Homo sapiens: one gene and its partners. The protein of the gene in region 1 purifies or fractionates together with the protein of each later gene. This does not show direct contact. Each region holds a gene or a part of one and is shown on either strand. Other genes may lie near its edges.

The links.
Region 2: the proteins of STK17A (region 1) and GPATCH2 purify together in Homo sapiens (affinity purification with mass spectrometry, with the first as the bait; one large-scale study listed by BioGRID). This does not show direct contact.
Region 3: the proteins of STK17A (region 1) and SDAD1 purify together in Homo sapiens (affinity purification with mass spectrometry, with the first as the bait; one large-scale study listed by BioGRID). This does not show direct contact.

Annotation. Positions count from the first base shown.
Region 1 is NC_000007.14:43,589,582-43,593,237, forward strand, and holds part of STK17A (serine/threonine-protein kinase 17A), read left to right. Parts: intron 1-3,656.
Region 2 is NC_000001.11:217,613,991-217,617,646, reverse strand, and holds part of GPATCH2 (G patch domain-containing protein 2), read left to right. Parts: intron 1-3,444; coding exon 3,445-3,506; intron 3,507-3,656. UniProt on the Homo sapiens protein: Enhances the ATPase activity of DHX15 in vitro.
Region 3 is NC_000004.12:75,956,390-75,960,045, forward strand, and holds part of SDAD1 (protein SDA1 homolog), read right to left. Parts: intron 1,553-3,656; coding exon 1,458-1,552; intron 1,320-1,457; coding exon 1,129-1,319; intron 1,021-1,128; coding exon 936-1,020; intron 1-935.

The DNA of each region.
Region 1 (3,656 bases):
ACTCCTACCACATTACACAGTACTATAACTGGTACCACATTTACACAGTACCTATATTAAAAATCTAAAAGTCATCCATGACTTTCACCTTTCCTTTCTCCTCTCATCTCTGCGTACAACTCACACCTGCCAGGGAGTGCTAATAAATCTTGACTTTGAGTGTCTTTTAAACATATTCTCTCTTCCCAGTCCCTACGCTGGTACTTGAGTGCAGACCTACTGCTTTGAATTATTTTATTGGCCTCTCTGTTTCTAGTTATCACTGGCAATCCACTCTTCACAACACTATTAGAATTACCTGTTTTGTTTTATTTTATTTTATAATTTTATTTTAATTTTATTTAATTTTAATTTTAATTTTATTTTATTTTATTTTATTTTATTTTATTTGAGACAGGGTCTCATTCTGTTGCCCAGGCTAGAGTACAGTGGCATGATCTCGGCAGCCTAGATGTCCCAGGCTCAACTGATCCTCCCATCCCAGCATCTCAAGTGCCAGGACCACAGGTGCACACAACCACGCCTGTCTAATTTTTGTATTTTTTGTAGTGACAAGATTTCGCCACGTTGCCCAGGCTGGTCTCGAACTCCTGGGCTCAAGCAATCCGCCTACCTCAGCCTCCGAAAGTGCTGGTATTACAGGCATGAGCCACCGTGCCCAACCAGAATTATCTTTTCTAAACAATTATTTTCAGTATTCTAATAGGTTCCAGTTTTAAGCCTGATGAAGCCCAAACTCCTTAGCAAACATACCTACCTAAAGATACTCACCCTGTCTCCCTAAGCAGTGTTTTTAGGCACTGATAATGCAAAGGACTTAGGGAGCTCGGACTGGTGGGTCTCAATCAAATGTCACCTCCTCTTGTTATAATTGTTTATGTATCTTACCTTTCCCACCTCTCTGGAATATGTTTTCAGTGAGTAGTTCTGAAATGTATTCATTTCTGATATTCATCCCAAAATATTTAATGAAAACCTAAGTTCTCAGTTTTGTACCTATTAGCAAAATATAGATGTTTTTGAAATGAAAAAATATACCTGAAAATTATGGCAACTGTTTATTCCAGGAAGAAGTTTGGCTTTTGAGTCAACAAAAAAAGTAGATGTGCAACAAACATCTTATGCCCTTTGGACCTCATCAGCCCCAAGAGAGCTGTATATAACCATGGCCCATAATGTCAGGGAAACATCATTTTTAAAATGTTTTGTAGAGGACTCAATAACCTAAAGTTAAAGGTTGAGGTACAGTCACAATTTTTACCATAAAGTCATGGTAAAATATGCATGTTGGAGCCCTTTTGAGGTATGGAATTTAGGGAACTCTGTCAATGTAATTCTGAGCATATACACTGGGACTTTGCAGCTTGAATGCTGAATCTCCTGTTTTCTTTATACAATGTGGCTGTGTAGAACAGCTCCAAGAAATCCGTTATTATCTTCTCTGACTCCTCCTTGAGTGGTTTGAAGGGTCCCCCTCCCATTGCACCAGTCATTTAGAGATGAAGGCATGCATGCTTCCTCAAATCATTGCGACCTGCTGTCATAATGTCAGTTTCAGTGGTATGTGGTATTAGAATGATGGAAGAGTTTTATTCAGCATAGGATAGAGCAGGGGTCAGCAAACTACAGCCAGCCACCTATTTTTGAAAGCCTTGCAAGCTGTTTTTACATTTTTTATGTTTTACATTTTTTAATAGTTAAAAAAATTAGAATAAGAGTAATATTTAATAACATGAAAAGCTTATGAAATTAAATTTCAGTGTAAAAGGTTCATTGGAAGCCAAACATACCCATTCATTTACCTTTCTTGTATGGCTGCTTTTGTTCTGCAACAGTGGACTTGAGTCATTGCTGCAGAGACCCTCTGGTCCACAAAGCCAAAAATATTTACCATCTTGCTTGCCCTTCACAGAAAAACTTGCTGACCCTAGTATAGTACAGGATATGTTGGAAAGAAAAGAATAAATCTAGAACTGTGAGGAATGTTTCCAGAAAAACAAAGGTGGTGTCAGTGTAGTCATTGATATGAAAGGAGAGCCGTGGGAACTGCATTCTAGCACCTAAAGGAATGGGTGAGGAGCATGAGCAACAGATGAATAAGTATGGGGAAGAGGCCCCAGAATTTAGCAATGGCTGTTCTGTAACAGGGCTCCCACAGTTCACAGGTTAGCAATGTGTGTGAGTCCGTGTTTAATTTGCCCTGTTAAATTCTAACTTCTAGGTTTTGATCTTTCATTCTAGACTACTGACATAATTTTGAGTTCCAATTCTGTTTGCTGAATTAGCTGTCTTTCCATTTGGTCTTTAAAAATAGACTTTCAGGCTATGTAATAAGTAGTTTTTTACTTACTGCACAGTACTTTATTGCTTTGAATGTCAGGTGTGGCAACAGTAAACATTTGTGTGTGTGATATGTGTTTGAGGGCCGTTCTACTGAGTCATTTCTAATTTACCAGGAACATGTTTGCTGCCAATTATATGTTGAGACTTCATTTCAGACGAATTTTTTACAAATTAAACTTTCTCTTCTCTTGAAACTTCAGACATGTAGGTATGAAAATATCAAATTAATAACAATTGTTTTCTGTCTTAAAAGAATTCAGAGATCATTGGGAACCTTTTAAAACTTGATGGAGATGTTAGCCTAATGATTTTGTGGGATAAAATGAAAGGTATTAATTACTCTTTGAGGAATTCATTTATAGTTACTCTCTCCCATATCTGTAGAAGTCTTTCATATTTCTGTGAACAAAAGAACTTTTATCTGAATAAGGGTGCTGCTAGGTAGGTTGTTACCAAATTGAACAGCCATAGGGCTATGCTTAAGGATTTGTCATTCCACATTTATATTACTAATGATAAAAACATGGAGGACATGAAAATTATATTTGCAGTTAACAATAGCTGGGAAGGAAGAATTACTCAAAATTATGTCAGTAGTCTAGAATGCTAGATCAAAGCCTAGAAGTTAGAATTTAACAGGGCAGGCCAGGCATGGTGGCTCATGCCTACAATCCCAGCATTTTGGGAGGCCGAGGTGGGTGGATCACTTGAGGCCAGGAGTTCGAGACCAGCCTGGCAAACATGACGAAACCCCATCTGTACTAAAAAAAAAAAAAAAAAAAAATCAAAAAATTAGCTGGGCATGATGGTATGTGCTTGTAATTCCAGCTATTCAGGAGGCTGAGGCATGAGAATTGCTTGAACCCGAGAAGCGGAGGTTGCAGTGAGCCGAGATCGTGCCACTGCACTCCAGCCTGGGTGACAGAACGAGACTGTGTCTCAAAAACAACAACAAAAAAGAATTTAACAGGGCAATTAAAGCCTTGCACTTAATTTTTTAGAAAGCTTTTTAAAAAAATAGATTCAGGGGTACAAGTGCATTTGTGTCACATGGATATATTGGGTCATGGTGAAGTCTGGGCTTTTAGTGTGCTCATCACCTAAATAGCGTACATTGTACCCAATAGGTAGTATTTAATTCCTCACCCCCTTCCCACTCTCTTACTGTTTGGTCTGTTTTTCCACTCTATGCCTGTGTATCCATTTAGTTCCCACTTAAAAGTGAAAACAGGCAGTTTTTTACTTCCTGCTTGAGTCATCTCACTTAGGATAATGACATCCAGTTCCATCCATGTTACTGCACAAGACATCAT
Region 2 (3,656 bases), on another chromosome or scaffold:
TATAAGCGTTTTCAAGACTACTTCCAAAGCTTTCCTACTACAAAAAGCTTTATATTTCCTTGGGGTTGATTTATAAATAAGAGAAACTTCAGTGTGGGGGGCTGTGTGTGTGTGTCAGATTTAACAAACATTGATGATTAACTACAATTTACTCTTCACTGGTGGCACCTGGACTAATAATGGAGACTCTGTTCTCAACAGCTGCATAGTCTGGGATAGCCAGGCAAGCAAATGATGAAAATGAAATGTGCTGAGTGGAAAGTATTAGTGAGGGAAGACTTGCTAAGGGAACTGTGCTTTAAAGCAAGTAGTAAGACTTGTTCAGGAATTGAGGAAGTCAAGAGAAGAGAGGGAAATGGCATTCATAGGTAGAGAGGGAGCAGCTTGTGCAAAGGCATGAATTGTGAAATGAAAATACATACTTTGTTTTTACCGGCAATAAAGTGGGATCAGAATTACAGCAAAAAGCATTTCTCAGAGGTCTATCTGCTATGGTAAATAGTTTGGATTTTATCATCTTATAGTCAATGGGATCAGTGAAGAATTTTTAACAGTGAAGAAACTCAAGTTGATTTACATTTTTTCAAGATAGTGTGATCTTTATAGCTGTATTTTGGTATTTTGTTTATCTTTGACCTCCAATCCATGCTTAAGTGGGAAGTGAATTACGATATGATAGCAGAGAGAACTAAGTATTTGAGAGTATTTGAGACCAATTTTAAGAGTTAGAATCGATGGGAGGTTGACTGACTATTTGGGAGGATGAATGAGAAAGAGGACTCTACGGAAAATATAGGAATTGAACAAATTGGGGCAAGTGATTGATATTAGTGTACATATATTTGTTCATCCAGCATATGTGGAATATATTCTCATCCAAATACCGTGTTATAAAATTCACTCTAAAAAGGTGAATCTCCAAGGAAAGGGTGTCTTTGGAGATAAGCCGTAATGACTGTCAGCTGCTGAAAATAAAAGGCTTGTTTCTATTTAAGTTCTTGTTCTGATTTATTGAACATAGAAACACGTACATAATGTACACGGAACAACTCTAGATACCAATGAGGTGAAATGTAAATCAAGAAACATGTTGTATACATGCATGCCAACATACCTCAAAGTAGGACAAGGATCATTAAGGACTCAGAGCTGGAAGAGAGGGAATTCTGATTTCCTTATATCTTCAAGAGCTTGGACAGGTGGAGAGGGAAGAGAGTGGAGATAGGCATACCACTGGGAAAAGAACATAAACAAAAGGACCAGAGATGGGAATAAGAAGAATTTAGATGGAGGCCCATCCATAGAAAGTCTTGAAATCTAAATTTAATTCAACAAGTTTTGAAGTAATTTTAAATTTTTAAATAGAAGACTGTTCTATAATGTACACGTGTGTGTATGTGTGTGTGCATAGTTTATCAACTACTTTCTTTGGAATAGATGTAAATTTACAGAAAAGTTGTAAAGATAGTTCAGAGAGTTCATGTAAATCACATTCCCATATATCCCAAATCCACTTTCTCCTGTTGTTAATATTGTACATTACTATGGTTAATCTCTCACAATTAATGAAACAAAATTGATATATTTGTAAGTAAAGTTCATAGTTTATTAGAATTTCCTTTGCTGTTATTTAATGTCCTTTTTTGGTTTCAGAATATCACATTACTTTTAGTCAACTTGTTTTATTTTGAAAAGATGAACCTGGCTGTATGTAGAATAGATTAGAGAGGGGTAAATCTGAATTCAGATTAGAAGATCATGGTCTAGAAAAAATAGCACATCAATTCATAATGCTTTGTCTGCAAATCTGAACTCTGAAAAGCTATGAAAAACTAATTCACTTGTGGCCAAATTTAATTTGACCTGTACTTAATGTGGATATTCATTCATTTAATTGAAGAAATATATTAATCTGTTTTATGGAGTACTATCCCAGACTCCTCCGAGGCATTTTAGAATATACCTTGCTAAAATTTGAGTAATTCAGAATTTTAAATACATTTTGCCTCAAGGGTTTCAGAAAAGGAACTGTGACCTGAGGTGTATATGAGACCCTTCATTTGAGTTGTGTTAATGGGGGGCACACAGGAAAGAGGAAAGTATCAATAGTAGTTTAGACAGCGAAATGTCAGAAAGATAGTTTCTGAGGTGATTTTAACACTCTCACATTATAGTGCATAGAAGAGCATATATATTTGTAAATAAGAAAATTTGGTTGTGATGCTCTTAGAAAATATTTTTTCATTACCAATTGTACAATATAGGGAGCTTTGTACATGCACTTAATTTGGAAGAAAGCTAGAGAGAGGTCTAAATTCAGAACTCCTTGGAAGAATGTGCCTCTTAAGAAATTCCTATATTCTTCATTAATATTTATTTTTTAAGAAATCGAACAGAAACAAATTATATTCAGAAAATGTATGTGAATTTAGATCTCATCTATAATTTTAATCCTAAACTTCTCAATTTAAATATTTTAAAACAAGTTAGGATGCCTTATTAAAAAATAAGATTATGGAATTCTACATATTAATGGAAAAAGTATTTTAATTAAAAAAAGGGATGATTTCCTGATTGGTTAAAATTAAGAATTACAGTAAAAATAAAATACATGAGAATTTTTAAAGAACATCACTAAATTTTCTTTAAAAGCTAAGCCTCTCATTATATTATATGACTTTGTTCTCCTGGTATTTTAAACTAGACTGTCATATAAGCATTACTTCTATTAGAATAGTAACAGTTTGTTTATGTTATTCAAATATCTGCTATTTGTTTTATTTGTATGTTAGATTTGACTCTGGAGCTTCTGTGGGAATATATGTACACACTCCCTCCTTAATATTTGTAATATTATTTTTTTTTTTTTTTTGCTTAAAAGTGACCTTAACTTCGATATAATGGATTATCACCGTTTTAAACTTTTTATTCCTTGCAAACTAATAGAGTTGTTGTGAATTCTTAAGTAATGTCTTCTCCAGAATATTTGTAAATGTGGTTATGAAAAGTAATCTCATCCTAGTCCTTTGTATTTCATGTGCTGAGGAAAGGCTTAGCCTGCTTTTGATTGAGACTTTTCCCATTTTATTGAGCAGTGGTGTTCCAGGCTCAAGCTGAATTGCATGACGTAAGAAAGGAGCAGTGAGCATTTGATGAAAGTACATGATAAAATGCATCAATTGTGTCAGCATCTCGTTGCAGTCACATCTGGCTTACTGTCAGGGTCCCATTAGATTCCTGTGGTTTTATGTGCCAAAAATAATATGCTCTGTAGTGAATGGAACCAGGATATTAGCAGTTTGATTAAAAAAAAAATCATCTTATTTTCTTTCAGATCTTTGTCAGGCTTAAGTTCCATCTCTGAGCTGCCATGTCTCTTTAAAATTTTACGACTGAGAGATCAATTGTTCTTTTGATCTGTTTCTTTCTTTTTCCTTATTACAGTGATTCCAGCAGTCTCAGCAGCACTGATGCTGGATTGTTTACCAATGATGAGGGAAGACAAGGTACTGAAATGATATTTTTTTCTCTCTTTGGAAAAACTTCTTCATTCTAAAGTGGAGCTTATTACTGGTTATTTCATAAGTTGATGACTGCAATCCATTTACCTTACACATATTACTTAGTGAACTAGGATTTAGTATCGTAGCTGGTTT
Region 3 (3,656 bases), on another chromosome or scaffold:
TAGACTGTTTTTTTTTTGTTTTTTTTTTTTTTGCAGGATGAAGGCATTCATGGTAAGGGAAAGGAGGGGAAAGACAGAGCATTTCCGGAAGAAGGGACAGTGCACACAAAGGTGTGGAGGAGAAAGGACACATGGAAGACAGAGGATGAGGTGGAACTAGGAGGGGACAGTGTCTCAAACAAGTGGAGATACAGAAAATGATGTTGGAAATGTAGGCAGGACACAGACATGAGCAGCCACAGCACTAGCCACAGGCAGACTCCAACTGGCTCTGGCTTTTCACTGGTGACTGTAAACACATTCCTACTTTTCTCTTAGCTTTGATAAATATAGTGGCTTCCTGACAATACAGACATGTAATACTGCCTTCCTGTGCTCTCTACCTTGTTTTGAGTGGTGGTTACATGGCTATATACAGTTGTCAAAACTCATCTAACTGGCTGGGCGCAATGGCTCATGCCTATACTCCCAGCACTTTGGGAGGCTGAGGCGGGTGGATCGCATGAGGCCAGGAGTTTGAGACCAGCCTGGCCAACATGGCGAAACCTTGACTCTACTAAAAATACAAAAATTAGCTGGGCGTGGTAGCAGACACCTGTTACCCCAGCTACTTAGGAGGCTGAAGCAGGAGAATCGCTTGAACCTAGGAGGCAGAGGTTGCAGTGAGCTGAGATTGTGCCACTGCACTACAGCCTGGGTGACAGAGAGAGACTGTCGCAAAAAACAAACAAACAAACATACTAACAAAAGCAAACCCAAACAAAACCCCTCATCTAACTGAACATCTAATATCTGTGCATTTTAATTTCTGTGTTAATTATACCTTTATTTAAAACATTTTTAAAAATTGCCATTCTGTGGCTATACAAGTTCTGGCTTATGTTTCATTTTATTTGCTTTCTGTTTAAAAAACTAGGAATGATATGCTCACTCACCATTGCAGTTGCTAGTCTTGTCTCTTTGTCAGACTTTGGCTTTTTATGAAGGCGTTCAATGTCCCGAAGAGAAAGTAATTCACCCCTGGGGTGAGGGAAAAATAACACATGAAACAAGAATGGAATTCTGTTTCCTGATGCTTTCATTACCACATGAGCTGACTGAAGTACTAAAGTGGATGTGCCATTTTACCTGGGCTCTTCATCACTGTCTATTTCAATGTATTTCCTCTTCTGGGATTTCCCGGGGGCAGCATCAAGTTCTTTTCTCATTTGGGCCATGCGGATTTTCTGGAAGTCTTCCTGAGTTAAAACTCGGCTAGTGCTGATGGCTGCAGCTTTGGCCTTCCGCTCCTCCATGGGCATGCTGTTCAGCTTCTTGGACTTGAAACCACACAAGGGCTTAAATGGCTACCAGCTCAAGTGAGAGCTCAGCCATTTAAATTGTAGCCTCCCAACAAGGCCCAGAATAAATTACGTCTTAATAAACACCAGGTTATAAGATGAAATTTTCAGACTTACGATTTCTTGCTGTTCTTCATCGGAAGAGTGTTGCACATCAATCCATTCACCATCAGCATCCTCCTCCTCACTGAGACTGGTACTTTCCCATCCATCTGCGTGAAAAAAGCAAACCCACTACTGCCATTTTATGTTGCACATTCAACATAAAGTTGAGATGAAGCAAGCAACAGAAAAGTAATGAACCTTGAACAGATACATTATTAACCAAGAACTGAGCAATATTTATTGTTAAATAAACAATGTGCCTTTAGTTAATCTAAGGAATAGGAAATAGGCACTGATCAAGTATCTACCATGAGTCAAAACCTTACAATCACTCTCTCTAACCCTCATAACTCCAAAGAAAAGGAACAGATGCTCAGAGTTTAGTAATGTGCCCCAAGCCACACCGCTAAAAAGGCATCCTACACTGAAATCATGAAAATCATGTCTACCTTTAGGGTCATGTTCTTTCAACTAAACCAACTGTGTCCATCAAAACTGCACTTGTACATTTATCCTGGCCACGCAGCAGGCATCTAATTTGTCCTATGCGTGTTACCCACGTATGAGAATCTAGTTAGTCATTCAGACAACTGAGGTAGAATATTTGGGATGTTAAAGAATCCTGAAGACACCTCAATAAAAAGGTATCAGGCTTCTTAATGGAGCCACCACAGTTTAAATTTTCTAAATCACAGACACTGCAATCTTTCCATGACTCCCTATGATCTTTAAGAGAACGTGCCAGCTCTTTTGTCTGGCATATACATAACCAAGTATGAAAAGGTCACCAAACTCTATCTCAAGCCTCCTGTCTTTCTATGTTCCATCTTGTATCCTACATTCTAATAGTTAGTTCCCTAAATCCTTCAAGACTTTGCTCACACTTTGCCTGGAAAGTCTCTGCTATTCTAGCATTCCTTGCCAAATACCTGGCTCATCAGTCACCATCTCTCCAAAGCCCTTTAAAAAAAAAAAAAAAAAGGCCGGGTGCAGTGGCTCACGCCTGTAATCCCAGCCCTTTGGGAGGCTGAGGCGGGCGGATCACAAGGTCAGGAGATTGAGACCATCCTAGCTAAAACGGTGAAACCCCGTCTCTACTAAAAAATACAAAAAATTAGCTAGGTGTGGTGGCGGGCGCCTGTAGTCCCAGCTATTCGGGAGGCTGAGGTAGGAGAATGGCGTGAACCCAGGAGGTGGAGCTTGCCGTGAGCCGAGATCACGCCACTGTACTCCAGCCTGGGCGACACAGCAAGACTCTGTCTCAAAAAAAAAAAAAAAAAAAAAAAAAAAAAAACCTAAAAAAAAACTTCCGAGGTGGACCTGACTGCTCTCCTGCCCTTATGCCCCCACCCACTCCAATCATAAATCCTGTTAACACTTCATTCTTCAGCCCTTTGGAAGCCCTCTAGAGCAGAAATAATACCATTCATCTTTGCATTGGCAGTGGCTGGCTCACAACAAATGCTTAAGAGGGCTTTGATCAAATAGGCTGGGTGCACTGGCTCACGCCTGTAATCCCAGCACTTTGGGAGGCCAAAATGGGAGGATCACCTGAGGTTAGGGGTTCAAGACCAGCCTGGCCAACATGGTGAAACCCTATCTCTACTAAAAATAAAAAAATAAGTCAGGCATGGCTGCACACGCCTGTAATCCCAGCTACTCAAGATGCCGAGGCAGGAGGATCGCTTGAACCTGGGAGATGGAGGTTGCAGTGAGCTGAGATCGTACCACTGCACTCCAGCCTGGGCAAGAGCGAGACTCCAACGTGAGGAAAAAAAAAAAAGATTTGCTGAATAATGAATGAATGGACAGGAAGAATACACGACTCTGGAAATTAGAATGGAGTTCCTCGAGTATTTGCCCACAAATTCAACATGCATTCTCCTTCAACAAGGAGAATTTTGGGGGATTCCTCTAAGGGCTAACCCCCGTAATTTTTTCTAGGCAACAAACACAAGATCATTGTCTTTCTCAAGCACCAAACAGCATGCCCTTGGATGAGCGGCAGCCACCCCGAAGGTCATGAAAAGGCATTTCCTATGCTAGAACATAAGTTCCGCAAGAGGAGGAACCATGCTCAATTGATCCCCCATACTTCTAACAGTGCGTGGCACATAGTCATTGCTCAATAAATATCTGCTGAATGAATGTTCAAATAGTATACAATTTAAAGGTCTGCACAGATACTGCAGGAGTGTTTTGCCCAAAATA